Regions from separate parts of the Homo sapiens genome. Here regions 1 and 3 are each linked to region 2. The links come from fine-mapping of genetic effects on gene expression. A gene starts in region 2. Each other region holds a variant in brackets. All regions are shown on one strand. Distances are from middle to middle. Region 1 overlaps LOC124900486 (a long non-coding RNA gene). Region 2 holds the start of KLF8 (KLF transcription factor 8). Region 3 overlaps LOC124900486 (a long non-coding RNA gene).

Region 1 (10,827 bases), 120 kb after region 2:
TCCTTCATCTCTCCTTAAAGTAGGTTTGTACAAAAGTATCAGAACAGTATTATTAATACTATCATCAGTATAATTGAATGCATACCAAGTATCATATATTTTGCATATTGTATGTCATTTATTTCCCATTTTTATGGTAGCATCATTTTGACAGAGGAATAAACAGATGCTGAAAAAGGTTAAATCACTCATCCAAAGATACTCAGCTGATAAGTAGTGGGGCCATGATTGGAATCCAGATTTGGCACATTCCCAAACTTTTTCACTTTGGCATGTTGACTTCCAAGTATAATTTGTTCACATTTTGTTTTTTTCATATATGTCAGTCTTACCTCCTCAAATAGACCATTAACTGTCATTGAGTATTCTTTTTCACCCCTCCCACAGCCCATACCACAAGGCAGGGCACAAAACAAATTTTATTAATGTCCTAGTGAGTGTTTCATAAACCTTTATGGCTTTATTATCATTTCAGTTAATAAGGAGTAGAGAATAATCAAGCAATGACAACCTTAATGATAACAAAAATTATGAAATTTTACTCAAAACATGTTCAGAGAAAAAACTATCACCCAATTTTTGCAGATGTAGATACTGATTCCATAAATGTTTATTGAGTATCTACTAAGTGCAAGGGTTTGCACAATAAAGACACACACACAGTTGGAAATGATTTTTCCTGGGATTAAGTAGGAGTGTTTCCTTCAAATAAGGACCTTTCTATTTATGACCATAGTTACTAAGGACTATCAACTACTTTCTGAAGTATATGATAAGTCACATCAAACTTACATAGGTACTGTGGCAATAATGAAAACCATCAGGCCCTGGCTGTGGCAAGTAGCCTTTATTTGAATCTAAAGTTCAGCCAACATGGGCCATGTGGCTTTTCTCCAAGAATCATCCTACTGGGATGCTAAAGAAAAGCTGAAGAAGGCAGAAACATGAAAAGATAAATCACAATTCTTCTCTGTCTTTGGGAAAAGAATTTCCGGGTCAGAAGAACTGAGCTTTCAGGGCAGTCTGATAAAATTACAGCCACGTGAAAACTAAAGGAGTCAGGATATAAGTCCAAAAGCAATAAATAATGCCAATAGACAAGTCAGTCCTGCCCACTCAGAAACGTTCTCTTTCCTCTCCCCTTTCTTCACTTTTCTCCCTTTTCTCTAACTGCAGGCTATTCTTTCTCCAACCTCTTCCTTTCCAGCCCTTCTCTCCATCCTTTCTCCTTCCTTTGCCCTTTATCTTTTCCTTTCTTGATTATCCCTTTCACAGTCATAGGCAGGAAGCCTTATGTGTGTGGTGTCTGAATTTAGTGTTTTCCTTTTTTTTTTTTTTTTTTTGAGACGGAGTCTCGCTCTGTGGCCCAGGCTGGAGTGCAGTGGCGGGATCTCGGCTCACTGCAAGCTCCGCCTCCCGGGTTCACGCCATTCTCCTGCCTCAGCCTCCCGAATAGCAGGGACTACAGGTGCCCGCCACCACGTCCGGCTAATTTTTTGTATTTTCAGTAGAGACGGGGTTTCACTGTGTTAGCCAGGATGGTCTCAATCTCCTGACCTCGTGATCTGCCCACCTTGGCCTCCAAAAGTGCTGGGATTACAGGCGTGAGCCACTGTGTTCGGCCCGGAATTTAGTGTTTTCTTTAGGTCCAGGGCATGCTACAGTCACCCTGCTCAGAAGCTAGCAGGATTACTTGAGAAAGAATGAAAAAGGTCAAACTCTCACCCTCACTTGGAAACATGCCCTCTAAAACCCAGAATTTATGCTTCCTTGAGCCTCAAAGGGGAGGAGGTGGGGCATATTCTCTTTTTCTCTCACCTTCATACAAAAGAAGAGGGAAAGGCCCTAGGTGGTGGGTGAGTGAGTGGCAGCAGGAAGGGATGACCAAAAGCATGTTTCTGGAGCTAGCAATAACACTCATCCCAAGGCCTAAGAGACCATGGGAATTTCTGGAGAGCTGGTATAAATGGAGGAAATGGGGTAAAGCCATTCAGGCTGGGGACATTTTTCTCTTTCATCTCTCTTTTGAGCCCTTCATGCAGGAACCAAGAGCACAGACAAATAGTTGGACACCTGGCCAGCTGCCTGGAATGGTCTCTTCCTTAAGGGAGAGCTTAGCCACTGCACAAAGGTCAGCTGAATAGTGGGAAATAGTGTTTGTTTAAAAGTCGAAAAAACTCAGGGAAAATTTCCTGTATTACCAAAGCTGAAAAATGAAATCCTAAGCCTTCAAGAGGGCTGTAGCTTGAAGTCCCTGGACATTCTACCTAAAGCTGGGCACTGTTAGCATCAGGGTTCGGATTGGGTGGCATAAGAAAAAGGAGACAAGGCAGTGGTGGCATCCAGAATTCCCACATCGGAAGAGCTTAGGTAAGTTGGGTTGGAAAAAAAGTAGGAGACTAAAAGACTAGTTTTGGAGCTCTATTTGCACTGCAAGCATACTGTGGGACTTACATTGTAGATTCCAGATTAGTTAAAAGTAAAGTTTCCAAAGATACTTTTAAACTAAAAACTAAGGATAATATATATATATATAGCCTTTCTAAACACCCTCCGCTAGTGTAAAAGGGCCGAAATGGAGTAACCATCAACTACGTGGACTTCCAAATTTTCTAGTACCCAAAGAATACTTGGGTACTACCTTATGGCTCCTACCTTATGCAGATCCAGACCTAAACTTGCACAACCCATTCTTCTGCTTGCAGGCACACTGGAGAAGTCAGCCCCTTCTGTAACTGAGAAACTAGTCAGCCTACAGAAACTAGACTACGTTAAAACAACAACAAAACAACCCCAAAACCTAAAGTTTTTTTAAAATCACTAAAAATAGGCCAGGCGCGGTGGCTCACACCTGTAATCCTAGCACTTTGGGAGGCAAAGGCGGGTGGATCATGAGGTCAGGAGTTCGAGACCAGCCTGGCCAATATGGTGAAACCTCGTCTCTACTAAAAACAAAAAGTAGCCAGGCATGGTGGCATGCGCCTCTAGTCCCAGCTACTTGGGAGGCTGAGACGGGAGAATCGCTTGAACCCAGAAGGCAGAGGTTGCAATGAGCCAAGATCACGCCACTGCACTCCAGCCTGGGTGACAGAAGGAGACTCTGTCTCAAAAAATAATAATAAGCGGAACCTGGTGTGATGATTGCTCTGTCACAGCCAGCTTGCTTCAGCTGGCCTCCCCTGGGATGCCTCCTCAGCTCTCCCATTAGGCTCTTTGGGGATCAGGCAGCAAAGACAGAGGCAACCTTTTCATTCTCCCACCATGACCCTCTTCCTCCTTTTCCCACTTTAGCAAAGGAAATAAAAGCTCTCTTCTGTCAAAGCGGACCCCAGTAGGAGGAAAGAAGGCTCTGTGGGAAGTAGATCAGTCTCTTTAACTTCTCTTCCTTCTGTCTTTCACATACAGGCCTCCTCTCTTCAAACTATGACAAATACTTTTGATTCCATGGCTCAGATAAGATAATCCCTCACAGATTTAAGAAAAGCTATCCTGGGTCCTGCAAAACAGAGTTACATACAACATTCTCTCTATCTACACCTTCTCCAGGAATTTCCTCCTATTTGAGACTTCCTACATCCTGCCCTTCCTCCTCCCAACTATGAGCCTATGTGAACTATATAAAGTTTGTGACTGAAATATACATATATACAACAAATGAATATATAAATACAATCAAAAACAATCTAAATTAGAAACTTCAGACCAGCAGAGCTGTATACTGCTTCAGAAAAAGCTTGCGTTATGTAACCAGAAGGAAGAACATTATTATTGGCAAAATTTTATCACCCAGAAGAAGTTTTTCCATTATAGTTTATTGATGATTAAATTACAATAACATTTGCACTAAAAACTAAGAGATTTTAGTGCAAATCTAAAATCTAGTGGAAGGATTTGAAATTAAGAGTTAGGAGACTTAGGCTTTCAAGTGTGACCCTAAACAAATCATCTAGTCTCTTTAGGCCTCAGTTAACTCAGGTCAGAATCTCCACTCTACCTATCTCATACAAA[C/T]ATTGTAGTAAACAAGTGAAAATAAGACTGTGAGGGCCTTAGAAATCGATACATAAAATGTACTTAAGAATAATACAAATAGTAATGATAAGTATTTATAACTTCTATTTCAGACCATTTAAGGTTTATCTGACTTTCTGAGTTGTTTATGGCCTAATGGAATTCACCAACTCCATTCTCATAGCGCATATTAACAGTAATAGCTGACTTATATTGAGCAATAGGTGCCAGATATTGTATTAAGTGCTTTATATATATACACACACATTAGCTCCTCTGCAACTCACAACAGCCCTGTGGGGTAGGTAAACTGAGTATGAGAAATGTTAACTGTCTAAGGTCATACAATTAGGAATTGCTATAGTCTGATTTTTGTCCCCCCTTCCTGCCCTCATTCTTATGTTGAAATCCTAAGTCCCAAGCTGATGGCATTAGGAGGTAGAAAATTTGGGAGGTGATTATTTCATGAGGGCTCTGCCCTCACGGAATGGAATTAGCACCCTTATAAAAGAGGCCTTAGAGAGGTTGCTTGCCCCTTCTGCCATACCAGGACCAGGAAGTGGGCCCTCACCAGAAACCCAATATTCTGGCACCCTGATTTTAGACTTCCCAGCCTCCAGAACCATGAGAAATAAATTTCTGTTGTTTATAAGCCACCCAATCTATGGTACTTTGTCCTAGCAGCTCAATGGACTAAAACAGAGGTGCAGAGGTTAGCACTTAAATTTAGGCAGTCTGACTTCACTGCTGCCCCACACTGACACAAGGATTAGATTAAACAGTTAAAGATAAATGAATTTGAAGAAACACTAAAAGACAGTTAATCAAAAACATGATCCAATGTGTTGGTCCTGCAGTTGTCTTGCTTCAGAACAATTTAACATTTTACATATGAGTATCTGAAAGTGGCATATTTAATAAGAATGTAGAATAATTGTTTCACTGTTCCTAATGAACAGTTCTGATTGAGGAATAAGCTGAAATCAATGGCAAACTGAGGTTCTTTCTGTTTTTTTTTCCCCCAGAGATGATAGAGCACAATAGAGCAGCCAGGGTAGACTATATATTCTATGAGGACAGGATCATGCTTTTGTCACAGAATGCAAAAATTCAGTGAATACAAAACCTCAATTTTGTCTAAGGCACTTGCATCTCCTGCTCAGCACTCAGCACAAGCCTTGCAATAGAGCAGATGCTCAGGGAATGTTTGTTGAATAGATTTGATTTCAAAAAGGAGCATGCTAATGTTCATGAGCAAGTTCAAATGTATATAAGGGGGAAGTTGAAATGGGAGGATAGTTACTTGTACTGAAATGTGTTAGGACTGTTATATCAAAGTCTCTGGTTCTCACAAGGTATTTCATGGCTTGGAGAGTTCTACTTTTTTTCCCTTCTTTTTTAAAATTAATAGAGATAGGGGTCTTGCTGTGTTGGCCAGACTGGTCTCAAACTTCTGGCATCAAGTAATCCTCCCATCTCAGTCTCCCAAACAGCTGGGATTACAGACATGAGCCATCATGCCTGGCCAAGAGTTCTAACTTATTAGAAAGTTCACTCAAGAACTCATGTTAGGAATTTATTAAAGCATGATATTGCACCAAAGAAAGTATAGATAAGAGTTCTAACATGTTACAATGTTTATGAACTGTTAAGGTATTTTAAAGGCAGAACATTTCAAATGCCTAGTGAGCTAAGGTACAGCATGGTGACTATAGTTAATGATATTGCATTGTATACATGAAATCTGCTAAGAGGGTAGATCTTAAATGTTCTCACTACACACAAAAAAAGAAAATACGGTAACTGTAAGGTGATAGATATGTTAATTATCTTGATTGTGGGAATCATTTCACTATATATATATATATATATATATATATATATATCAGAACATCATACTGTATACCATGATATAGACAATATTTTATTTCTGAAGTATACCTCAATAAAGCTGGGGGAAAAAATCCCACATCCAGCTGATGCCCATCTTCTCTCATGACCATTCCTCCTCCAGCTTTCCAGGCCCTTTTCAGGAACTTGCAAATTCTGGGCCTCTGGCTATAACACTGATTTCTGGCAGAAAAGGCCACCAGGGTGAAAAGACTTCAGAATTAGCTCTCAACTGAATGGAGATGAGGGTAGTTATTTTTCACTAGCTCTTTCATCAATTCTTCTCATTGGATCCCATCAGGCTACCTTCTCTCTCATAAATACTATATTGCAACAGATCCAGCCTTTCTCTCAGAATCCCGGGCTGGATCCTCCTCATCACACCTGTTCCTGCCAGGTACAGCTCCATATGAGCATTCAGGCTTGCAGCCAGGATCTCTTTGGCCAGATGCTGGACCTCAGACTGCCAAAGCAGTTTCACGCCATGTAGTAACAACTTTAATTTTAGAGCAGAAGCAGTCTGGGCCCCAAGGCAAAGAGCTAAGAAAGCACAGAATAAAAAGTCAAATCAGGGAAGAAATGCTGTTCTATACAAAAGCTGACCATCAGTTAGATGAATTCATATTTAACAAAGTGAACCTGGTAACTTTAGTGGGAGAATTCAGTAATGGAATAGCTTTCACATGGAACAGAAAAGATAGATGCTTGAAGCCTAACTCTTCTCTTTATTAGCTCTGTGACCTTAGGTATGGTACTTACTTGCTCTGTGTATCAGGTTTCTCATCTGAAAAAAGTGGTAATAACAGTATTTACTTTATAGAGTTGTCATGAATATTCAATGAGATATTCCATATAAAGTTCTTACAAACTTGCTTGACACAAGGTAAGTACTTGCTAAATGATATTATTATTATGGGAATATCAGCTTTCGATCCTGCTTAGCCGGGTACCACATCAGTTTACTAAAGGTATATCTGGTGCACTGAAAGATATTTTACTACATAATGCCTGCCCTCATGGCCTGAGGGCACTCCCAGCTTGCTTGTTCTACACCTGTGAATGGTAAGGTCCACTTCTATCACTAATTAACTGGGAACAACATCACTCCAAAATGCATAGGGAATAAAGATTCCTTTGATCATGTTTTCCAGTATGTTAAAGAAATTTTAGCTGTCAACTGCCAAACCTAGACTCAATAACAAAAATCCTCAGCAGATGCTCCTTTCCAGATGTGTTGGCTTCCATTTTGAGAATGAGATAAATCAGGACTTGAGTCTCAGAAAAAGAATTCAGAGACTATCTAACCTTCCCCTTCATGACTTTGACTATTTTTTACTTAATATATTTTTTAAATGGACTTACCTAAAAAATGATTTCTTGTGTGTGATGGGGTTTTACTATGTTGCCCAGACTAGTTTCAAACTCCTGAGCTCAAACAATCCTCCTGCCTCAGCCTCTAGAGTAGCTAGCATTACAGGCACATGCCAGCGTGCCTGGCCAAAAAAATAAATAAATAAATAAATAAATAATTTTAAGAGAAAAACATAATCTTACCACAAATAGAAAATTCCTCCCATATGTAGTATACATTCAAGGAAATCCATAACTATTCAAACTTTTTAAAATTTGACAAGAAACAAAGAGTTGTATAATTTTTTCATTTTATAGATGAGACAAACTGAAGTGTGGAGAAAAGACCACACACAATATAAGTCAGCGTAGTGAGTAAAAAGTAAAACGGAAGCCAACGCTTCTGATGCCAATTTAAGTACTCTTTATGTTACTCTTTATATTATGCTACCTTTGATCTGTATAAAATTGTAATGCTTTTTCCTACCACTCCACATATCCTTCACTTTTGCCTGAGGCAACTTGGGGAAATATGTGATTTCTAAAACAACTAACTAAAATATTTCTTAGTCCTTGATTCTGCTCTCATATCAGATAGGCAAACTAAAGAACAAGGAAGTTATTTGATTTAGCCCAGGCATTCAATATAAAAAACTATGTCTATGTCCATATGCAATATGAGGACGGTCATTCCACTTTTCACACCTCTTGGCACAGGTAGTCACACCCAATGTCTACTGTTTTGCCTGCTGGATAATAGAATTCCACAAATCAAAGTTGCAAGAGGTCATATAATTGCAAACTCTCTTTATCTGACAAATGAGAACACTGAAGTTTAGAAAGAAAAACAAGCACTTGCGCAAGATATTCCAGTAAGTTCGCAGCAGAGCGATATCTAAAACTAGAGGAGGTCCTTGGGTCCCAAGCACAGAACTGTGCAGACACTTGGCGGCCGCTAACATTGCGCCCAGGGGCAGCACGCTGGAGATGGCCTAAGATGACCGACTTCCTGGGGGGAAGGGTTGGCTGCCATCACTGGGGCTCCAGTAGGCCTTTATCCCCTGTGGGTGCCAAGGAGACTGGGCGGTTTGGATCAGTAGGAACTCCCCACAGTGTAGCACAGCAGCTGTGACCAATCATGGACAGACTGCTTCTATAGGTGGGACCCGGATCCATCCCTCCTAACCGGGCGGGGCCTCCTTGCGGGAATTTTAGCAACTCCAGCCAGGGATTTACAGACAGAACTATGATCCCCCTGGGACAGAGCCCCTGGGGGTAGGGCCAGCCGCAGTCTCCCATTCAGAGGACTTAGTCAGTCCCCCTGCTAGCTCTGAGGAATCCGGACAATCCAGAAGAGTGGGATTCCCCCCAGCACAGCTCACCTGCTTAGCCAAGGGGCCAGACTGCTTCCTTAAATAAGCCCTTGATCTCCTGCATCGTGACTGGGTGAGACCTCCCAACAGAGGTCACCAGACACCTCATACAGCTCTGGATGAAGGGGACCTGACATATATCTACAGAACACTCCACACACTCTACCCAAAAACAACAGAATATACATTCATATTAGCATTGAAGGAGTTCTCAAATTCAAAACCGATCTGTAAAGACTTGACTAGCAGTGTGTGTGCGTGTTTGTGTTGTGTGTTTTTTCATTTCTTTTTTTCTTTTTTCTCCTTTTTAATTTTTTTGTCTAGACATCACAAAAAAAAAAAAAAAAAAAAAACTATCCCTGCCAGGTCACTGTCTGACCACTGAAATAGTAAAATGGAGACTTCAGTAACAACACAAAATAATAATTCTATATTTTGCAAAAATTAGTTTGGAAAAGTCACTATACAAATGAAAGCCCACAGCTCATAACAAGCACCAACAGCAAACCTAGGGAGGGGAGAAAACTCTTATTTTCAGAGTTACCACATAACATTTAAAATGTCCAGTTTTCAACAAAAAACAAGGCATACAAAAAAAAAAACCATGAAAGTATGGCCTATTTACAGGAAAAAATAAACAAAAATTATCCACAAAGAAGTCTAGACATTCAACTTCCTAGACAAAGACTGTCTTTTTTTTTTTTTTTTCTGAGATGGAGTCTTGCTCTGTCGCCCAGGCTGGAGTGCAGTGGCATAATCTCTGCTCACTGCAACCTCTGACTCCAAGGTTCAAGCCATCCTCGAGTAGCTGGGACTACAGCCATGTACCACCATGCCCAGCTAATTTTTGTATTTTTAGTAGAGACGGGGTTTCACCATGTTGGCCAGGTTGGTCTTGAACTCCTGACCTCAAGTGATCCCCACTCCTTGGCCTCCCAAAGTGCTAGGATTACAGGCATGAGCCACCATGTCCAGCTGCATCAACTGGCTTAAACAGGCTCACAGAGGTTAAAAAGAAAACCTTAAAAAAATTAAAAGCTACAGAAAACCAGGAAAAGGATTTCTGAACATAATACCAATAAAAACACATTACAAAAAGAACTAAAATAAAAATTTTGACACTGAAAAGTATAATAGTTGAATGAAAATTTCACTAGAGGGGATACAAAGCATATTTGAACTGGCAGAAGAAAGAACTAGTGAACTTGAATATAGGACAATGTAAATTACCAAATCTGAGGAGCTAACAGAAAATAAGAATGACAAAAAATAAACAGACCTTAAGGGTTGTGTGGGACACCTTCAAGCATACCAACATGTGCATTATGGAGGTCCAAAAGGGAGAAAAGGGAGAATGGGGTGGAAAGAATATTTGAAGAAATAACAACCAAAAAATACCAATTTGTTTTCTTTTTTAAAATTTTTTTTATTATACTTTAAGTTCTGGGATACATGTGCAGAACGTGCAAGTTTGTTACATAGGTATACACATGCCATGGTGGTTTGCTGCACCCATCAACCCATCATCTACATTAGGTATCTCTCCTAATGCTATCTCCCCCAGCCCCCCACTCCATGGCAGGCCCCAGTGTGTGATGTTCACCTCCCTGTATCCATGTGTTCTCACTGTTCACCTCCAACTTATGAGTGATAACTTGCAGTGTTTGGTTTTCTGTTCTTGTGTTAGCTTGTTGAGAATGATGGCTTCCAGCTTCATCCACATCCCTGCAAAGGACATAAACTCATCCTTTTTTATGGCGGCATAGTATTCCATGGTGTATATGCACCACATTTTCTGAATCCGGTCTATCATTGATGGGCATTTGGGTTGGTTCCAAGTCTTTGCTATTGTGAACAGTGCCACAATAAACATACGTGTGCATATGTCTTTATAGTAGAATGATTTATAACCCTTTGGGTATATACCCAGTAAAGGGATTGCTGGGTCAAATTGTATTTCTGGTTCTAGATTCTTGAGGAATCGCCATACTGTCTTCCACAATAATTGAACTAATTTACACTCCCACCAACAGTGTAAAAGCATTTCTATTTCTCCACATCCTCTCCAGCATCTGTTGTTTCCTGACTTTTTAATGATCGCCATTCTAACTGGCGTGAGATGGTATCTCATTGTGGTTTTGATTTGCATTTCTCTAATGGCGAGTGATGATGAGCTTTTTTTTCATATGTTTGTTGGCTGCATAAA
Region 2 (10,827 bases):
TGGAGTGCAATGGTGTGATCTCGGCTCACTGCAACCTCCGCCTCCCAGGTCCAATCGATTCTCCTGTCTCAGGTTCCTGAGTAGCTGGGATTACAGGCATGCACCACCACACCCGGCTAATTTTGTATTTTTAATATAGATGGGGTTTTACCATGTTGGTCAAGCTGGTTTCGAACTGCTGACAGGTGATCCTCCTGCTTTGGCCTCCCAAAGTCCTGGGATTACAGGCATGAGCCACTGCGCCCGGCCTAGAATTCTAGAATTTTAAGGGAAATCTGATTTTGAAATATTGGCAATCAACCAACTTTTAAAAGTGTGGGACTAGGCAATTTGACACACTGCTATGAACTGACTTGTGTTGTGTCCACTCTCCAAAAAAAAATTAATAGGTAGAAGACCTAACCTAGTGACTATATTTGAAGATAGGGCCTTTAGGAAAGAAATTAAGGTTAAATGAGCTCATAAAGGTGAGGTTCTGATCTGATAGGATTAGTGTCTTTCTAAGAAGACACACCAGAGAGAATTCACTCTTTCTCCTCCCATTTGTACAAAGATCACATGAGTACAAAGTGAAAAGGTGGCCTTCTACAGGTCAGAAAGAGAGTCCTCATGAAAATCTGACCATGTTGGCACCCTGATCATGGACTCCCAGCCTCCAGAACTGTGAGAAAATACATTTCTGTTGTTTAAGCCACTCAGTCAATGGTATTTTGTTATGGCAGCCTGAGCTCTCTAATGCACTGCTTACAAAAGTTTTTATTGTTATTACAAATAACACTGCAAAAGTTTGGAAATAACTTAAAGATCAATCAACAGAAAACTGTTTAAAAATTTGTGGCTCATGCATATAGTAAAAACCTATGCAGTCATAAAAAAGAATGAGGCATTTAAAAAATGTGCATATATGAAAATATCTCCAAAGTATATTTTTAAGTAGACAAGCAAGTTGTAGAGAACAATATGCAGAATGTGTTACTATCTGTGTATAAAAGGTGAAGGGGATATATATATACACACACACACACAAACACACACACACACACACATATATATATAATAGAAACTACCTCATAAGGTTGCAGTGAAGAATAAGTGTGTTAATTTTGTAAACACTTAGAAGAAGGCATGAAAGTGAAGTAAGCAGTGAGAAAATATAGTTGTTGTGGTACTTACATATATACTAATATTATATATGTATTATATATAATATGAGCTCATCTAACCTTAATTTCTTTCCTAAAGGCCCTATCTCCAAATACAGTCACAAGCTTAGGTATTAGGTCTTCAATGTATGAATTTTTTTGGGGGGGATGGGGGGGTCACAATTCAGTTCATGTCAGTATGTCAAGTTGCCTAGTCCCACACTTTTAAAAGTTGATTGATAACCAGTATTTCAAAATCAGATTTCACTTAAATTCCTAGAATTCCAGTTTCTTTTGAATAATCAGAAGATACTGAACCATATATATATATATATATATATCCATCTATCTATCTATAGAAAACCAAACATGATTTCACATTATCTTTGAGTAAACAAATGAGCCCAATACTACAATGTTATTCACACACACACACACACACACACACACACACAAACATACTCATTGCTTGATATACACTAAATATCCCTGGAGAGATTCCTAATAAATAGATAACATTAGTTGCCTCCAGCGAGGCAAAATGGGTGGCTAGAGAACAGGAATAGGAGGGAGACTTTTTTCACCATGCACCCTTTAGTAAATACTGAATTTTGAGCCAGGCGGAATGCATTACCAATTGAAAATGCATGTTTTAGTTGAAAGTTTTTAAATTTTAGGGAAAACAAAACACGTGTGAGCTTTAGTTGGTCTGTAGGCTAATTGTTTGCACGTCTCGCCTAAATTAAGGTGGTGGCAGTTAGAATAATAATAAAGAAACAGATACCAGATACAAAGGGGAAAAAATACAACAGCCATTGGCATCTAATTAAATGAGAAAATGAGGAAGAGGGGAAAGGGACATGAGTACCACAACAGCTACATTTTCCCACTGCTTCACTTTCATGCCGCCTTCTAAGTGTTTACAAAATTAACACACTTATTCCTCACAGCAACCTTATGAGGTAGTGTCTATTATTATCCCCAATGCACAGATATGACAACTAAAGTACAGAGTTTAAATAAGTTCACCATTACTATGGTCATAGTAAGTTGCAGAACCAGGGAAGTGAAAGGAAGAGTCTTGAATGAGGAATGAGTGAAGAGTCCAGAGGTGATGATGGGCTGTATATTAGAAATGGTGAGTGTGAGGTTACAACAAAATGTCAAATTGCTAGTGATTTGAAATATCTGGATTGGGCTCTTGAGTTAGGTTATTGCTCCTTAATAATCCTAGAGCTTAGTTTGCCCACATCACATCTATTTTGTCTAAATACACAAATAACATCTTTTAGTATATTATACAGAACATCTAGCACCTTTCATATATTTAAATCCAGCTTCCTGTCCACTAATCTACATTCCACTTCTGCAAACACACAGCAGCATTTAAATAAAACAAATTTTTTTAAATAACAAAAATGATGAGACCGCAACTTATGAAACATATTAGATATCAGGCACTGAGTTCAATGCTTTCCTTACATTATTTATAATCACAAATTATCATGTCATTTTAGAGATGAGGAAACAGGCTAAATGATGAAACTCAGTTGAGGATAGTAAACATTAGCATATAAAAATCAGGAAGAGGTTGGGCACGTGGCTCATGCCTGTAATCCCAGCACTTTGGGAGGCTGAGGTGGATGGATCACCTGAGGTTGGGAGTTCGAGACCAGCCTGACCAACATGGAGAAACCCCGTCTCCACTAAAAATACAAAATTAGCCAGGTATGGTGGTGCATGCCTGTAATCCCAGCTACTCAGGAGGCTGAGGCAGGAGAATCACTTGAACCTGGGAGGCGAAGGTTGCGGCAAGCCGAGATCACGCCATTGCACTCCAGCCTGGGCAACAAGGGCGAAACACCGTGTCAAAAAAAAAAAAAAAAATCAGGAAGAATACCAAACATGATCTCACACTGTCTTTGAATAAACAAATGAGCCCAATACTACAATGTTATTCCCTTATTCATACTCTACTTAACAATAAGATGGTAATCATACTAGATGATCATCTATGTCAATCATCCTAATTAAGTTTTCCTTCATTCACAAAATCATGGCATTGTAAAGCTAGATCTTAGAAGATCATATACTGCCCCCACCGCACCAGGCACAGACAATCTGGCAAGATCAAAAATGACTAGGCTCTGTTTGCTACTTTGGTTATTGGAATTCACTTAGCCAATGAGAACCCCACCTCAGAAATGCATGTATTAGAACAATGAGAGTGGTGATGGTAGTCTGCTACATGGTTATTTTTTTCCCAATTTCCAATGTGCCCTGAAAAGTCTAAACAAGAGGGATGTATAGCTCCTGAGGGCTCTGAAGGTACAGCCATTAAGTAAGTTGGTCTTGAGGGTGGACTACATAGATGCACCTGTCATTTTTACTTTTGAGGTTATTATTTCTACTCTTCCTATGTTTTCTGCCTGTCTGCCCTCCAGGCTTACCTGAAGACATTGCTCCCCACCCATTCTCTGTGTCCCCAGCAGTCACCAAAGGTCAACAACTCTCAAGGGCTTCCCCATAACTCTGAAGAATGGGATGAGGTCATTTACCTATCACTTGTTTCTGTTGTCCAAAAGTCCTGTTGGTTATATCATTCTGGTTAAGTTGCCCAAAGAATGAGAGAAAAGGCAGGCTAGTAGCCCTTTCTTTCAGAAGTGATGAAGTCTGGTGGAAACAATGTTAAATCAGAAGCAAATAAAACCTGTGTTCTAGCCTCAGCCTTTGGACAAACTAATTCAGTCTTCCTAAGTTTCGTTTTACCACATCTGGAAGGTGTTTTAAGGACAGAAAAACACTAATTTTATCAGCAGTGGTCCAGAAAAATAGTTCCAAACTGAGTAGAAAAGGGAAGTTGAACTAAGATACAAGTGGCAGCCTCTGCCACATACACAAGATATTTCATCCACCCGAGTATCTACTGAGATAGAATTATTAATCTGCATTCTATGGAAGAGAAAAGCAAGGCCCAGGGTGATGCAGCTAATAAGTGGTGATACTAGGGTTTCAAAGCAGATTACCCCAAACCATGGCAATCTCCATCAGTTTCAAATCCAAATTTAAAGATTATTCTTTTTGCTCAATTATTACCACACTGGGTGACAGGTGCTTAATAAATGCGTTTCTTCACGATGAATATAATACCAAAAGAAATAAGACATGGTGCCTTTGGCCACCTGTTTGGATGTGATTTATTTTTTCCCAAATTCTTAGGGTTAAAAAAAAAAGCCCACAAAAAGACAGCTCCGCCAAGTGGCTAAACAAATGGATTCACTTCAGCAATCACAGCAACTCGGCCCAGTCAGTCTTCCACCTACACAGACGAACCAACTGCCTTGGCCACGTCTTAAAGGGCCGGAGCAGAGCCTAGGCTCTGGCTTCCTTCTCCAACCAAGCTCAGCCCCTCCTTAAAGAGCTGGCACGCCCAAAGCAGCTCCTCCCCCGCAGCTGCTTCCAGGCCTCACTCTGTGCCTCCAATAGCCTAACTTTGCACCTTAAACCACTGTCCCCTCCTCCTTCTTTTCAGAAGCTTCTCTAGGTACCCGCTATGGCTTCAGGGGGTTACCTGGGAGCTTTGGCCTTGTGAATCCTGTTCTCTCTGGTTGTGACTTTGGCTGTGTGGGGTTAAGTCAAAGACAATCCTTACCGCTTAAGGAGTATTGGGAGTGCCGAGCCAGGGGAGACTAGACTAGACAAATCCATCCATTCTTGCCCCCTTTCACTTCTTCCACCAAGCTCTCTCCTCTCCTTCTTGGCCTTTCTTTGCCCAGCCCTTTAGCAAAGTCATTTTCCCTTGAGTTTCATTTGATTCCACATAGTGTTCTTAACCTTCCGCTCCCGCCCCCACTGCTGAAACCCCAAGTGGGGTGTGTGGGGGGAGCAGGGGGACTGGGAGGGGGATAGAATCTAGACGAAAGAGGTGGGAGTGGGTGGGTATTAGTCCCAGAGTCACTTACCGACCATGTCACTAGCTGAGGACTCCTGAAGTGTCCAGAACTCATGCCGTCCTCCGGGAGGCTCATACTCCTGAGCTGATCGCAAGAGAGCTGTTCCCCTCACACCCGCCCCATTCTGACATAGCGCAGGGCGACGCGTTCTCGTCTTCTCGTTCTTGGGCCCCCACTCCCCTATTTCTCCGGGCTGGAAAATGAGGAGGGGGTCGAAAGGGGAGGGAGTCGATTCAGACCCAGCTGGGCCACTCTCGGAACAAGGGAAACAAAGCTCTCAAGCATCCAACCCAAAAATCAGGGGCCGGCAGAGTAGACTTCCTAAAAAGAATCCTCCCCCCTGCAGCTTTTCCTTGGACAAAAATAAAGTGGGTTCGCTGGGCCGAAGTGGCCAGAGCTTAAGGTCCTCCGTTCCCCTTTTACCTCTACCAATTCAGTTCCGGCCAAGCCCGCTCTCCACCCATCCTCTGAACTCCACACACCCTTTAAAAGGAGAGGGCCGGGGGTGGGGGCTATGAAAACCAACCCAACCCCCAAAGCGCTACTTGAACATAAAGTTGAGGCGGAGAAGAAATCCTTCAAGACAGGAACCCACGAGGAGATACCACAAGAGGATCCCTTCACCGCCGCCGTTGCCGCCGCACACCCCAGCGCCTTCCTAAAAAGAAAGAAGGGAGGAAAAAAATGCCGACGATTGGTAGAATCATAGAGAAGAACACCAGCCCCAGGGCAGGGGCTTCAGCGAAAAATGGCAGCAACTCGTGCGGGTCCTCTGGGGCGGGGTTTCTTGGAGGCACCTAGCTGCCCCACGGGGTACCTCGCGCCCCACGCGAGTCAGAACCTAAAGTGCTCTCTGGGCAACCTGAGTGGGTAGAGTGATTCCGTCTTTCTCTGGCCCTGCTAGGCCCAAAGGAGAGGTGTGACTATCGTGAGGACTCCACCTAGGGTGGAGTTCCTTAAAAAGGACAGGCGGCCGCTAGAGGAGAGTGCAAAGTGGGAGGAGGTGGAGAAGGGTGGGGCTGAGAAGGAGGAGGGAGGAAGGAGGGGGTGGGGCGGGGCCCTGGGCCGACAGAGCTGGCCTCGCCTCCGGCGGCCGCCTCCCTCAGCCTCCAGCAGCGGCAGGTATAATTCCAATCAATTTCACTTCCTTATCTGTCCCAAAATTAAGGCTTGCAAGCACACTGCTTGATTACCTATTTACTCCGGTTATGCTAATTCTCCAGGGGAGGGTGGTGAAACGGGTACTGGGATTGGGGCTGGGGGCTGTCTAAGAGGGAAAGGAGAAAACAAAAAAGCTGACAACTGGAAGCGATATTTATCCTCCTACCTCTCCATGGTAACACGAACAAGGACAGCGAGGTCACAGTGTCTTCTCAGGGAGGAAGCTAAAAGGAACGGAGATTGGAGCTTGGTGCATTTTCTAGCAAGAGATAAGCCAAGGAGGTGAGGGCGAAGGAGTAGGTGGGGAAGAAGAAGGAGTTGAAGATGATCTGTGAATACAGCGTGGCCCAGCAGGGAGACTTAAGAAAGGCTTTCTCAGTCTCCCAGATACCAGACCTCTAAGAATAGAGTTCTCAACCCCCTGAGACCGCCTCTCAGCCAGGCATTGGCGAAGATCCCCGTAAAGCTGAATCCACAGGATAGGAGCCATGTTTCCAGGATTTCTTTACGCTTGCCTGAAAGTCTCTCTCTAGCTCATTTTAATGGGAGGCCAGGAAGTCACAAGCAACCACAGCCCATTTTCAGTGCCTCTTCCCTACCACAATTCTTTTAAAGAGGAGGAAAAAGAAGAGAGACAAGAAACAAAGCAGAGGGAGGAAGAGCAAAGAGACAGGAGAAATAATAATATCTGCCATGTATTCAGCACCTAATATGGGCAAGTCCCTGAGCCAGGTGCTTTTACATTCAACATTTCCCCATTTAGTCCCAATAACAACCCTGGGAACTAGGTACTGTTATATTCTCTGTGCCCTTTATTTAAAAAAATAAGGAAACGGAAGGCCTCAGCCCAGTACTTTCGAACACATAGGTCTACTTACTTAGTTGATATTTCTGCCTGAATGTCTTCTGTGCATCTCATCTACCTTCCTTTCCCCAAAACACTCTGTTCTTCCTCCTGTAGTTCACCAACTACCTGAATGGCACCACCATACATCCAAGGCAGCACCCTGGAACTCATCCTTTAACCTGCTGTGATCTGGCCTTTGTCTGCCTCTCAAGCAGCAGAGATTTTGCTGTTCTCCTGGGCTTTACCTGGATTACAAATCCCTGGGAATTCCAAGCTGTTTCCAATCTCTATGCCTTGGGTTGCTTTACTTTCTCTGACTGAAATAGACTAAGCTCTCTGTCCACCTTTTTTTTTCTTGCATGTCCTTCCAATGAATCTGTCCACTTTCTTGAAAGGACTAACTCAAGGTCATCTCCCCTCCTTACTTAATTTCTTCAGGCAAAACTGACCATTGCTTCCTCTGTGCCCTTCTCTACCTCGGGGCACATATTTGTTGGTATAATTGCCTCCCCCTACTAAACTATAAAGTCCTTGAGCTGAAGCACCAGGCGATCTCATTTCTGTAACTTGGATGCCAAGTTATATTATTATTAACAATAATAATAGTTATTGAGCATTAACTATGTACTAAACTCTGTTGTAAGCCTCTTATGTATATTAACTCATTGAATCCTTCTGACAATCCTATGGGTAGACATTGCTATCCCCATTTTACAGATGTGGAAACTTAGTGACAGGTTAAATAAATACACATGCATATGTATTTGTTTCATAAAAGAATGTCCCTGTAGTAGGGGTTTCATAAATAACTCTCTATCTCACTATATCTCTTCACCACGACCTGCACCCCTGCCAAGCTTACAAGGTAAGATATATTGAGATGGAATCATACAGAGAAGTGTACAACTCTCTATGCCTTCATTTAAAAAATTTACTTTATTCCTTGGAGGCTTTGTTTCTCAATGTATAAAATTTGGGGAGTATTATCCAATATAGGATTCTTACCACTACAGCACTGTTTTGAGCAATGCTGAAAAGTTTTCTCTTAGATTCAAGTGTGTGAAAGACATTAAGCAGTTTATATCAATAATAAATGCATTTTTGTGATGTGCAGATGAAAATGAGTAGATTGCTGAAGTAACATTTTGAAAAGAGTAGCCACTACTAGCCCTGAATACAGTGGGTGTGCCTTAAGGTCATCGAGTTACTTTTTCAGTCTGAAATAGCTTTTCAAGAAGGTCGATCCATACACAGATAGCTTAACAGTTTATATTTTATTAAAAGTCTTTATTGTTGACAAATTTATTTTAAGCTCTAGCTTTTTGTTTGTTTTAGAAATACTGCCTCAACTTTATTTGTGGGGAAAACTTAGACCTTAGATGGCAAATTCAGTTTTTGGAAAACTTGAAGTTATTGAAACTTGGAAAAACAAACCCAAGATCCTTTCCCATCTGTTCTTTCATCTATTCAGTCAATAAAATGTATTGAGCACCTGTGCTTTATCAAGAACAATGCTAGGTGTTGGGGGGCGGTGGAATGAGAACATCCATTCTAAGAGGCTCCAGTGGATGAACCCTCAATTTCACTGTACGCACACAGCCTATTAGTCCACATTTCCCCTTCAAGTCCTTTAGAGATGGCCTCTGTCTCACTCAAATTAGGACCCAAAGATGGTTCACAGGGAACTATGAAACCCATGACCACAGTTAATGTCAAAGGCAGGAGTTTGCCTTTATATTCTTTTACTCTTGACACATAGAAATAATCAGCATGTGGTTGGTGTTGTCTATGTCACACGAAAGGGTGTGAGGGAGCAGGTATGGGGAACTAGAAGTTTTGATAAATTTCCCTGTCCGTCTAGGAAACACCTCAGGCTCTCCTTTCTTTAGCTGGCTAGAATAAACATGAACCAAATAGCAACCTGCGATATTTTCAACTCCTTCCATCCCACCTTATGCGTGAGGGAGACTGCTTGAAGAAGCAGCCTGTGCTTTCCTCTATATATCCAAGTAATCAGATGAGGAGTGTTAAATTAAGTGTGGAACCTAATGAAAAGCAGCTGAGAAATATGCAGACACGATTCTGGGCCCACATATGCTGTTCTTCCCTTCTTCTCTTTCTCCTCTTCATCATCCCGCTTCTCCTCCTCCTGAAAGCCAGCTGACAAACTACCAGGGTGGAGCCCAGTCTGAGGGCTGGAGGGAAGGGAGGAGGAAAAGCCTCAGTAAGAGGACTCCACCCTCTCTGCTCCCAGTAGAACAACAACAATAAAAAAAAGAAGGCTTGAGAAGCTGGGCCTGACAGGAAGGTGGGGCAGAATAGGGCAAAGTGAGGAAGGGTGGGTAGATGGGAGGGGAGTTAGGACCTCAGCTGGGTAAAGCTGGGCTGGGGAATGAAAGGGAAGTCAAGCAATATACAAACAGAAAAATCTGCATTCATTAAATCACTGTTGTTTGTGGAACAACAAAAATGTAGCTAAAACCAGGGCATAGTTCAGACCTAGTGGGAACAAAATTGTCCTCCTCACCCACTTTTCTTCTTATTCCACAGTTCCCCAGAGAGCATATTCCTTCTGCGAGCTCAGCTAGAAGGAGACCTTTTGCCCCTCCGCTAATGTTGAACCAGTGTTAAGTTCCTCACATGTCCCAGAGGACAGCACTAAGGTTACTGCCAGCAAAGGATAAAGATATTTTGGAGAAGGAAATCTAGTTAGCTGAGAGAAGAAAGCCTGGAAGGAGATTGCGGGGATAAAACAATGATTTAGATTGCAAACTGTGCAACCCTGGGCAAGTGCCTTCACATCTCTAAACATTTCCTCACCTATTTCTTTTAAAGATATTACTTCACAGAATTGTCAAAAAGATTAAATAAGATGCAGAGGTGGCTTTACAGTAAAATTAATGAAGCTTAAGCTTTACGCCCCTTTCCAAGACTCCAGAAGGGATCAAACATTGTGTTTTTCTTAAAGATGGTCCCCAAAGTGGTATAAGCTTCCAGCCCCACAAAACCTAGATTGGCCGCCAATGAGATTATAGCCTACAAAGCACAGTGTCTGGCACAAAGAAAGCTCTCAATAAAGGTTAACTAATATTCATAGCAATGGCAACTGTGAAAACTACCAGCTTTAGGTTGAGTCTCTTTCTGGTCATAGATATTGAGAACATGCTCCTGTGTTCCCCATAACCCTTGCCACTGTATGTATAAATAAACCAGTTTATAAAAATCAGCAACTAAACTGCTTGCTTGAGACATTCAGAGGCATGATTAAATTTGGTTTAGGAATGGCCAATGGGCCAGAAACATGTGGCCAGGGTTTGAAATTCTGGCACCGCACCATCCCAGACAAGCTCTAGCAGGCCTGCTGAGTCCTATAAATTTAGTTGTGCCTCAGGCTGCTATCTTTATGAGCAAGGAGCTTGACTAGGTGTGTGTGTGTGTGTGTGTGTGTGTGTGTGTGTGTGTGTGTGTTGGGGCTAGGGGGTTGAGTATGTATGGGTTTTTAACTCCATTTTAGACCCTAGATACCACCACACCCATAAATTGGAGGAGGGAAGAGGGAAGAGACTTTATAATCAACAATCAAGTCAAACCAGAAAAACTGCACCTGCAGAAAAGGGATAACATCCTTGGCCTTGTCCCCAAAGTGTATATTCCTGAGTCAGGGCAAGAGTCTATTGTGTATACAAGAAAAAGACTTGCAGGCTGGGCACCGTGGCTCACGCCT
Region 3 (10,827 bases), 170 kb after region 2:
CTACTGAATTGTACATTTAAAATGGTTAAAATGCCAAAATTTTGTTATATATATTTCACCAGAATAAATTTTTTACAGAATGAATGTTTTACAAAAATTAAGCTTCTTGTGGTAATAAAGTCAATTTAGAAGTCTGTATTAGTTGCTTTCACATGGATTTATCAGCTGACAAAAGATAAAAGCGTAAATATATCGCCCAAGATAGTAGAGATATAATGGCCACAACATTAAACTAATATTAGCGGGGGAATTTTAAGAGATACTGCCAAGGATGATTTGAAGAGCTAATCTACCTGCCAATAACACAATACTAGTAAGACTGCAAATATAGACTATTGACTGGTAACAGATCCTCAGGTACCATTTGAATACTTCCAAATGGAAAATAAGTACATTATAGTTATTGTTGTTTATTCTTGGAGCTGGTTGAGGCTTTTTCTTGCTGCTAAACTAAAAATGTAATGATTTTTAAATTTAATCAAAAGTTCTTGATTATTTGTATTTCCAAATTGGAAAATTCATACTTATCACTCCACTAGCAAGGAGGTACATTTCTCTGGTACTGTTATTTAACATTAAAGAGCTCTTTGCAGCTTACATTTAACTCAAAATCTCGACTGTCCTTTTCACCCAGAAACTTCAGGAAGAATAAAGAGAATTAGTGAAATTGTAATAATGTAACTGTCCAAAACTGTAGTAACCCTCAAACTTCCAAGGCACAAAAAGTCATTCTTATCTGCTAAAAGTAACTTCATACCTCTTAAGGACCCACAAGTTATCTCCTTATGAGTTATTAACAGGCTGTCTCATGCAGTGTCATGAGAAATTTCACTTCCAATCCTGTATTCTAGTCTATTACAGGCTAATGACAGAATAATACATACTACTCAAATGATATCTCCAGCTTTATTTACAACAAACACAAGGAACATTTTCAAAACTCTTACCTAAACATTCTCTGATTGATTCACAATCCTGGAGATTTGGTCTTCTGAAAAAGGCATCAAAGAAAAACTGTTGTTGGGCTTCAATTGAAGTGACCAAATTAGGTACTGTTTTATTCATTTACATATCAGTAAAACTCTAGTGTTGATCCTGGGATTCATGTTTCTTCACTTAAATGACTACTAGACTTTATTCCACTAAAATAATTTAAACTGAGGATTATTAAAAATCCTGCACAAGCTGCTGACTTCAGAAGTGAAAAGCTTCTATCGAAGACAATGAACAAAATTAATTTTCTCATTCTTCAACATCCTTTTTTGTCTCTTTGCTTTACTGATAGTTTTGTCTATAATTACATTTTGATACCTCCTAGAACACTAATATAATTTATTTTATATTCCTTCTATTATTTTGAACCCCTGTGATCTTCTTATGCCACTTAAAGAAAATAAAAGAGCTCATTTTTCCCACTCCATAGCAACTACTCTGAACTTAGCTGATTGCTGAATCTTCTACCTCATTACGCTGATAAAAATTTAATAGTTTTTTTGTCTTTTAATACTTCAAATGGTAGATTACCTTTAATTACCTTCTGGTAATTAAGTTTCCTTCATATCTCAAATTCAGTCTTGAAAAATTAGACCTTGACTTTATGACATCAAAATGCTTCTGCTGAGGTTATTACAATCCTATGAGCTATTGGCCAATCCCATGGCCAATATGAAAGACACTAATATCTAGGTTATCTATTATACTCAGTCTGTTCTCTTCAGTGGCACTTCAGCCTGCTTTGAAAAACTATTTCACTCTTCACAGGATGTTTGTATACTAGAGGAACATAAAATTAGCTGTCTCCTATTAGAGTAAATGATGCATATATTCCCAATACAGTCTGTGCCATAATAGGATACTGTTTCTTACATGAGCATCAGGCTTACATGTGACTACCTTATATTTACTTAGCCAATGTATTTAGTTAGATACATTCAGATATTTAAAAACCACCACATGTTCTTTTTTTATTATTTTACTTATAGTTCCAAGATACATGTGCAGAACGTGCTGGTTTGTTACATAGGTAAACATGAGCAATGGTGGTTTGCTGCACCTATTGACCTGTCCTCAAAGTTTCTTCCCCTTGCCCCCACTCAACAGGCCATGGTGTGTGTTATTCCCCTCCCTGGGTCCATGTGTTCTCATTGTTCAACTCCTACCTATGAGTGAGAACATGTAGTGTTTGGGTTCCTGTTCCTGTGTTAGTTTGCTGAGGATGATGGCTTCCAGCTTCATCCATGGCCCTGCAAAGGATATGATCTCTTTCCTTTTGATGGCTGAATAGTATTTCATGGTTTATATGTACCACACTCTCTCTCTCTCTTTTTCTTTTTTTAAGAAAATTTACTTTAAGATTTGGGACACCTGTGCAGAACGTGCAGGTTTGTTACATAGGTACACATGTGCCATGGTGGTTTGCTACACCTATCAACCCATCATCTAGGTTTTAAGCCCCACATGCATTAGGTATTTGTCCAAATGCTCTCCCTTCCCTTCCCTCTAACACCCCGACAGGCCCCAGTGTGTAATGTTTGCCTCCCTGTGTCCATGTGTTCTTTTTCAACTCCCACTAATGAGTGAGAACATGCTGTGTTTGGTTTTCTGTTCCTGTGTTAGTTTGCTGAGAATGATGGCTTCCAGCTTCATCCATGTCCCTGCAAACAACATGAACTTATTCTTTTTTATGGCTGCATAGTATTCCATGGTGTATATGTGCCACATTTTCTTTATCCAGTCTATCTTTGATGGGCATTTGGGTTGGCTCCAAGTCTTTGCTATTGTGAATAGTGCTGCAATAAACATATGTGTGCATGTGTCTTTATAGGAGAATGATTGATAATCCTTTGGGTATATACCCAGCAATGGGATTGCTCAGTCAAATGGTATTTCTGGTTCTAGATCCTTGAGGAATCGTCACACTGAAGCAGGACTGCTGGGCAGGACCGCTGGGCAGGAAGCTGGGCAAGACCGCTGGGCAGGAAGCCGGGCAAGACTGCTGGGCAGGAAGCCGGGCATGACTGCTGGGCTGGAAGCTCTAGGGGATGTGGCACATCTGGCTACAGGAGATGGGGGTGGGTGGAGTTGACTGCTCTGGCATCTGGGTGTTTCCAGGGCAATAGGGGGCTGCACCCCTTAGCAAATTCAGGCAGAAGTAGAACTGCTGGGCCAGAAGCTCGATCAGGCATGACTCACCTGGCTACCAGCAGTGGGGGTGGGTGGGGATGCCATCCCTACTGTCTGGGTACCTCCTGGGACAAAAGGAGGCTGTGCCCATCGGCTGAGTTTCCACAGAAGCGGGCTTACTGGGCCAGAAGCTCTAATACACATATCCCACCTGGCTACTAGTAGTGGGGGACAGCAGGGTGGGTGTTTCTCAGGACAACAGGAAGCTGCACCCTCTAACCGAGCTCACACAATAGCAGGGCCACTGGGTCAGAAGCTCTAGTGGGCATTGCATTCCTGGCTCTCAGTGGCAGGGATTAGATCAGTGGGGTCATGCACCCTGCCATCCAGGTGTTTCTCAGGACAACAGGTGGCTGCACACTCCAGCTGAGTTCCCACAGATGCAGGACAGCTGAGCCAGAAGTTCTAATAGGCATTGCCCACTTGGCTGTCAGTGGCATGGGTGGGTGGGGTCACCTCTCCTGCCATCTGAGTGGTTCCTGGGACAACAGGAGGCTGTGCATGCCAGCATAGTTCAGACAGAAGTGAGGCTGCTGGGCTAGAAACTCTAATAGGTGTTACCTGCTTCATTAATAGTGGTCAGGGTGGGTGGAGTGTCATGTGCATGGCTGACCAGGTGTTTCCCAGGATAACAAAGCTGGGACTTCCACCTGACTTTAGAAAGAAGCAGGGCTGCTGGCCTATAAGCTCTAGCAAGCATTACCTGCATGGCTATCAGTGGTGGGGGCAGGCAGGGTCATGTACTCTGCCATTTGGATGTTTCATGGGACAACATGAAGCTGTGTCCTCCAGCTGAGTTCACGCAGAAGCGGGGCTGCTGTGCTGGAAGCTCTAGCATGCATTGCTTGCCTGGCTACCATTGGCAGGGGTGGGTGGGGTCACACATTCTGCAATCCAGGTGTTTCCTGGGACAACAGGAAGCTGTGACCTCTAGCTGAGTTTACACAGAAACGAAGCTGTTGGGGCAAAAGTTATAGCAGGCATTGCTTGCCTGGTTGCCAGTGGTGCGAGTGGGTGGAATCATACACTCCAAAATTTGGTTGTTCACCAAAACAACAGGAAGCTGTGTGCTCCAGCTGAGTTCACACAGAATCAGGGCCACTGAGCAGGAAGCTCTAGGAAGTGTTGCTCACCTGGTTTCCAGTGGCAGAGTCGGGTGGGGTCATGTGCTCTGCCATCCAGGTGTTGCTTGGTAAAACAGGAAGCTGCACCCTCTAACTGTGCTCAAACAGAAGTGGGCTGTCGGGCCAGAAGCTCTAACAGGTGTTGCCCACCTGGCTTCCAGTGGCAGGGCAGGTGGGGTCACACACTCTGCCATCCGGGTATTTTCCAGGACAACAGGAAGTGGCACCATCCAGCTGAGTTCACAAAAAAGCAAGACCACTAGGCCAGAAGCTCTAGCAAGCATTGACATTCTGGCTATCAGTGGTGTGGCTGGATGGGGTCATGTGCCCTGCTGTCAGAATGTCTCCTAGAACATCAGGAGGCTTCACCCTAAAGCTGAGTTCACACAAAAGGGAGACCATGAGGCTGAAGGCTATATCAGGCATTTCCACTTTGGCTACCATTGGCAAGGTGGGTGAAATAGCTGGCCGAATTCAAGCCAAAGTAGGACCGCTAGGCTAGAAGCTGGTGCTGAGCCTCTTCCAGCAAGGGGAAGTAAAGCAATCTTACTGCTCCCAGATACTGCCACTTTGGCCTCTATTGGAGCTATGGTGCAAGTGCTGGTGTTTTCTAGGGCCCAAGGCTTGTAGAAGTCCCCTTGGACTCGAGAGTTGCCTGTGAAAAAGTCTGAACAGTTTTCTGCCTCAGTCTTAGAAGTGTAGGAGGGGGACGGGGGAAGGGGGATTCTCCCATTCCTAGTCTTGCACAGGTCCCTGTTGGAGTGTGAATCTCCCTAGGTGCTCTCACTCACTCTTTCTCATATTAGAGAGGTTCTCCTGGCTCTCTGCTGAGTCCAGGCTGGCTGTTGACCAGCTTTGATCCTCTGCTCTCTGTGTTCCCCTGCTGCATTGATGGATCCTGACCTGGTTTCTCAGAAGATCAACCTGCAGAGTTAGTGCTCACTAGCCCTTTTGTTTCCTTTCTTTGAGAACAGCACACATGAGCTGCCTCTAGTCTACCATCTAGGCACTGCCTCTCATGCAGGTAAAAATGACCCAATTACTCAGATTAAAAGCTTCCAAAACCATTCTGAGTTCCTAGACACTATTCAAATGAAAAATAACAAAAATCTGATATGTAAAAAAATAGGCCTGACCTATTGGCTACAAGAGTTCAAGGGGATTTCAAAATTTTTTTGGGAAGAAGCTTTAAGATGGCTGACTAGAGGCATCTGGTACTCACGTACTCCACAAAGACGAATGGAAGACGTGAGTACTGGATGCCTCTAGTCAGCCACCTTAAAGCTTCTACCACACAAAACCAAATTAGTGAGTAGACAGTATCATCTTGAAGAGATCACCTAAGACAGAATGCTGAAATTTAACAGAAAAAAGACAGAAAACATTTAAGGCAAGGGAGGAGAGAGAAGCAAGGTAGTCTGCTTGGTCAGAATTGGCTTGGAGCCTGGAAAGGATCTTCAGTTAATGGAAAGTGAAAGGCTGCCAGCAGTCCAAATTCCCAGCATGATCTTCTGCAATCCTAACCATTGTAAAGCCCCTTGGCCCTTGTAGGCCTGGAGACTAATGTAGGGAGTGGCCTGGAGAACACATTGTGACACTGCTCCACAGAAGAAGCTCACTCTGTGTCCCAAACACCTCCTGAGTCCTAGGCAGTTACAAGGCACCATTTGGAAGGTCTAGTCCCCATCAGACTGCATCCTGCCTTAGGTCTCAACAGTTTTTGTATATTCACATCCTTGGAGCCTAATTGATATCCTCCACCCACATCCAGGTACCACTGCTGGCTAGTGCCAACAGGATTAAAGCAGGAACCATTAACAGTGAGCCTGCTACCCCCAGTAGCAGGACCAACACACATGTACAAGTGCAATGAAGACAAGCTACCCTGCTTGCAAAAATCACCTGGTGCTGAAGTATATGCTCCCCAGCTGCATGCCTAGTGCTGCTGCCAATGCAAGCAACCTCACCCTCCTGAGCATCAGGGAAGCAACAAAACTACTGCTGCACCAACCTGCACATACTGCACATATCCAGGCCCCTGTCTACCATAGTCGGTGCTCACATGAACCACTGAGGGGCCTGAGAGCAGGCCCATCTGGCCCAACTATGCCCCTGCAGAGCCTGAGGCCAACATCTGGGGGCCTGGGAATCACCCTGCCCCATTCATCACCTTTGACATCTGAGCACTCCTCCTAGGAGACTGAAGAACACCCAACATGCCACGACTGCAGCTGGCACCCACCCACACAAACTGCAAGCTTGAGTACTTTTGTGCACAGCA[T/C]ATCACAGAAACCACCAACACTAGAGGAAACCACCTGGGAGCCAGAGTGTTGTTCTGCCCTTATTACTGCCATCACTCATGCTACACCCTTTACCCAAGGCCCCAAAGACTCACTCACCCACTTGGGCAAATGGTGAAACTGCCTGTACCTGAGCAAGCTGTTTGGGGTCCAACAAATCAGCCTACCTAGACCTGCTGTCATTGGGGCCCAAAACTAGGCACACTAAATCCACTGCTGCCACATTGGAAGCCTGAAGACAGGCATACTTGGCATTCACATCCACACACAAACATCACAACAGCCTCTATTAGCAACTGCACTATAAACCACTGAAGAAATCATAGCAATAACTGCTGTTTACAGTCAAATAACTCATACAAGGACTATATTACTGCAAACACCCAGAATCAAACCCAAAGTTCCCTACCCAACCAACAACATAAATCCATCTTTAAAAAAAACCCATCTTTGTGAAAATAAATTCAAAAAATTGAAAGAAGCTATTTGTACATTAGATACACAGATATCAACATAAGGACACAAGAAATATAACAAAGAAAAGACAACATCTCCAAAGGAATGCAACAACTTTCCAGCAACAGATCCAATGAAAAAAAATTATGAAATCTTAAAAAAGAATTGAAAATGGTATTAAAAATCTCAAAAAGATACAAGAAAACAGATATTATTTTTAAATAACAATTTAAGATATTAATGAGAAATTTACAAAAAATAGATATCATAAAAAAATCTGGAACTAATTAATTCATTGAATGAAATAAAAATATATTTGTAAGTTTCAAAACTAGGCTAAATCAAACAGAATTTCAGAACTTGAAGACAGATCTTTTCAAATAACCCAGTCAGAAAAAAACAGGAAAAAATTAAAAAGAATAAGGAAAGTCAACAGGACATATGGGACACCATAAAGTGACTAAATATTCAAAATTGTGATGTCCCAGAAGGTGAAGGGGAAACAAAATAAATAGAACAGCTATTTAACAAAATAATAGCTGTAAACTTCCTAAGCCTAGCAAAATGTTTAGATATCTAATACATAATAAGCAGAAATTCCAAAATATACACAACTAAAATTTCTTCCCCAAGTCACATTACAGTCAAACTGTAAAAAGTCAAAGAGAGAATTCTAAAAACCCCCAAAAATGCACATAAAGGCGCATATAAAGGAACTTTCATGAGACTAACAGCAAAATTCTCAGCAAACCTTACATGCCAGGAGAGAATTGGATAATATATTCCAAGTGGTGAAAGAAAAAAAACTGCCAGCCAACAACGCTATACCCAGTAAAGGAACTTTTCGTAAATGGATGAGAAATAGTCCTTCCCAGAAAGGCAAAAGCTGAGAGGGTTTATCACCACTAGAATGCCCCTACCAGAAATGCTTAAGAAAGTCGTACACCTGGAAGTGAAAGGACAATAGCCACCATTATGAAAACGCATAAACATATAAAACTCACTGGTAGAGGAAACACAAAAAATAATAAAAAGAAAGCACTGAAATGGTACCACTACAGAAAATCACCAAACCCCAGTGATAAATAGAGAAAAATAAAGAAACAAAGAATATATAAAACAACGAGGAATCAACTAATAAAATGACACAAGCAAGTCCTGACATATCAATAATAAGCTTGAATGTAAGCAGGTTAAATTCTCCACTTAAAAGATATTGACTGGCAGAATGAATTTTTAAATGACCCAATTATATGCTGCTCACAAGAAACTCACTTCACATGTAAATGCGTATCTAGTAAAAGTAATGGGATGAAATAAAATGTTCCATGGAAATGAAAACCAAAAGCAAGCAGGAGTAGCTGTACTTAAATAACAGACTTTAAAGAAAAAAAAGGCAAAAAGACAAAAAGTATTACACAATAATAAAATAATAAATTCAGCAGGAGAATATAATACCTCCTGAGTCCTAGGCAGCTACAAGGCACCATTTTGAAGACCCACACAAGACTGCATCCTGCATATATATATATATACACACACACACATATATATGTATATACATATATATACACACACATACGTATATATGTATATATGTATATATACACACACATGTATATATGTATATACATATATATACACATACATGTATTATATACACATGCACATTCTATATATATGTGTGTGTGTATATATATATTGATATATATGTACATATATAGAAGGTCATAAACCTGGAAGTGAAAGGATAGTATCCACCATTATTAGAACACATAGGGAGCCTACTGCAGCTCGGTGAAGCTGCCATAGCCATACTGTCTCTCTAGATTCCTCTGCTCTGGGCAGGGCATCTCTGAAAGACAGCAGCCCCAGTCAGGGACTTACAGATAAAACTCCCATCTGCCTGAGACAGAGCACCTGGGAGAAGGGGTGGCTGTGAACACAGATTCAGTGGACTTAAACATTCCTGCCTGCCAGCTCTGAAGAGAGCAGGGGATCTCCCAGCACAGCACTTGACCTCCACTAAGAGACAGACTGCCTCCTCAAGTGGGTCCCTGACGCCCATGTCTCCTGACTGGGACACACCTCCCAGCAGGGACATCTCATACAGGAGAGCTCTGGCTGCCTTCTGGTGGGTGCCCCTCTGGGACAAAGCTTCCAGAGGAAGGAATAGGCAGCAATCTTTGTGTTCTGCAGCCTCTGCTGGTAATACCCAGGAAAACAGGGTCTAGAGTGGACCTCCAGCAAACTCCAGCAGACTTGCAGCAGAGGGGCCTGTTAGAAGGAAAACTAACAACAGAAAGGAATAGCATCAACATCCACAGAAAAAACAACCACACAGAAACTTCATCTGAAGGTCACGAACACTAAAGACCAAAGGCAGATAAATTCACAAAGATGAGGAAAAACCAGTGCAAAAAGGCTGAAAATTCCAAAAACCAAAAGGCCTCTTCTCCTACAAAGGATCCAAAATCCTCACCAGCAAAGGAACAAAACTGGATGGACAATAAATTTGATGAATTGAAGGAAGTAGGCTTCAGAAGGTGGGTAATAACAAATTCCTCAGAGCTAAAGGAGCATGTTCTAACTCAATGCAAAAAAGCTAAGAATCTTGAAACAAGGTTAGAGGAAATGCTAACTAGAATAACCAGTTTAGAGAAGAATATAACTGACCTGATGGAGCTGAAAAACACAGCACGAGAACTTCGTGAAGCATACACAAGTATCAATAGCCAAATCGATCAAGCAAAAGAAAGGATATCAGAGATTGAAGATCAACTTAATGAAATAAAACATGAAGACAAGATTAGAAAAAAAAGAATGAAAAGGAGCAAACAAAGCCTCCAAGACAGATGGGACTGTGTGAAAAGACCAAATCTATGTTTCATTGCTGTACCTGAAAGTGACTGAAAGAATGGAACCAAGTTGGAAAACACTCTCCTGGATATTATCCAGGAGAACTTCCCCAACCTAGCAAGACAGGCCAACATTCAAATTCAGGAAATACAGAGAACACCACAAAGTTACGCCTTAAGAATCATCAGATTCACCAAGGGTGAAATGAAGGAAAAAAAGTTAAGGGCAGCCAGAGAGAAAGGTGTGGTTACCCACAAAAAGAAGGCCATCAGACTAACAGCAGATCTCTCTGCAGAAACCCTACAAGCCAGAAGAGAGTGGAGGCCAATATTTAACACTCTTAAAGAAAAGAATTTTCAATCCAGAATTTCATAACCAGCCAAACTAAGCTTCATAAGCCAAGGAGAAATAAAATCCTTTATGGACAAGCAAATGTTGAGAGATTTTGTCACCACCAGGCCTACCTTACAAGAGCTCCTGAAGAAAACACTAAACAAGGAAAAACAAAGACAAAAACACAAACAAAAAACAAGGTACCAGCCACTATAAAAACCTGCCAAATTGTAAAGACCATTGACACTATGAAGAAACTGCATCAACTAACAAGCAAAATAACCAGCTATCATCATAATGACAGGATCAAATTCACACATAACAAAATTAACCTTAAAAGTAAACGGGCTGAATGCCTCAATTAAAAGACACAGACTGGAAAATTGGATAAAGAGTCAAGACCCATCACTGTGCTGTATTCAGGAGACCCATCTCACATGCAAAGACACACCTAGGCTCAAAATAAAAGGACAGAAGATTAACCAAGCCAAAAAGAAAAAAAAAAAAAAAAAAAGCAGGGGTTGCAATCCTGGTCTCTGATAAAACAGACTTTAAACCAACAAACATCAAAA

What was found. PIP is the estimated chance that this variant, and not a neighbour inherited with it, causes the effect.
Region 1: its variant is fine-mapped to the expression of KLF8 in whole blood (TOPMed, PIP above 0.99).
Region 3: its variant is fine-mapped to the expression of KLF8 in whole blood (TOPMed, PIP above 0.99). The same link has a PIP of 0.9 or more in blood mononuclear cells.

The regions. Positions count from the first base shown.
Region 1 is chrX:56,111,702-56,122,528 of GRCh38, reverse strand. The region is part of intron 1 of LOC124900486 (a long non-coding RNA gene); the gene reads right to left. It also overlaps a transcript of KLF8 not described here. Among named protein-coding and RNA genes, the nearest start is that of KLF8, 120 kb to the left of the region's middle. RefSeq lists an enhancer at 7,786-8,285. The variant C/T (reference allele first, on the strand shown) is at 4,009.
Region 2 is chrX:56,227,619-56,238,445 of GRCh38, reverse strand. It overlaps KLF8 (KLF transcription factor 8), which reads right to left and starts at 6,090. Exons shown (of 6, transcript NM_007250.5): 1 at 5,105-6,090. The coding sequence starts at 5,111.
Region 3 is chrX:56,061,929-56,072,755 of GRCh38, reverse strand. The region is part of intron 1 of LOC124900486 (a long non-coding RNA gene); the gene reads right to left. It also overlaps a transcript of KLF8 not described here. Among named protein-coding and RNA genes, the nearest start is that of KLF8, 170 kb to the left of the region's middle. RefSeq lists an enhancer at 6,233-6,492. The variant T/C (reference allele first, on the strand shown) is at 6,589.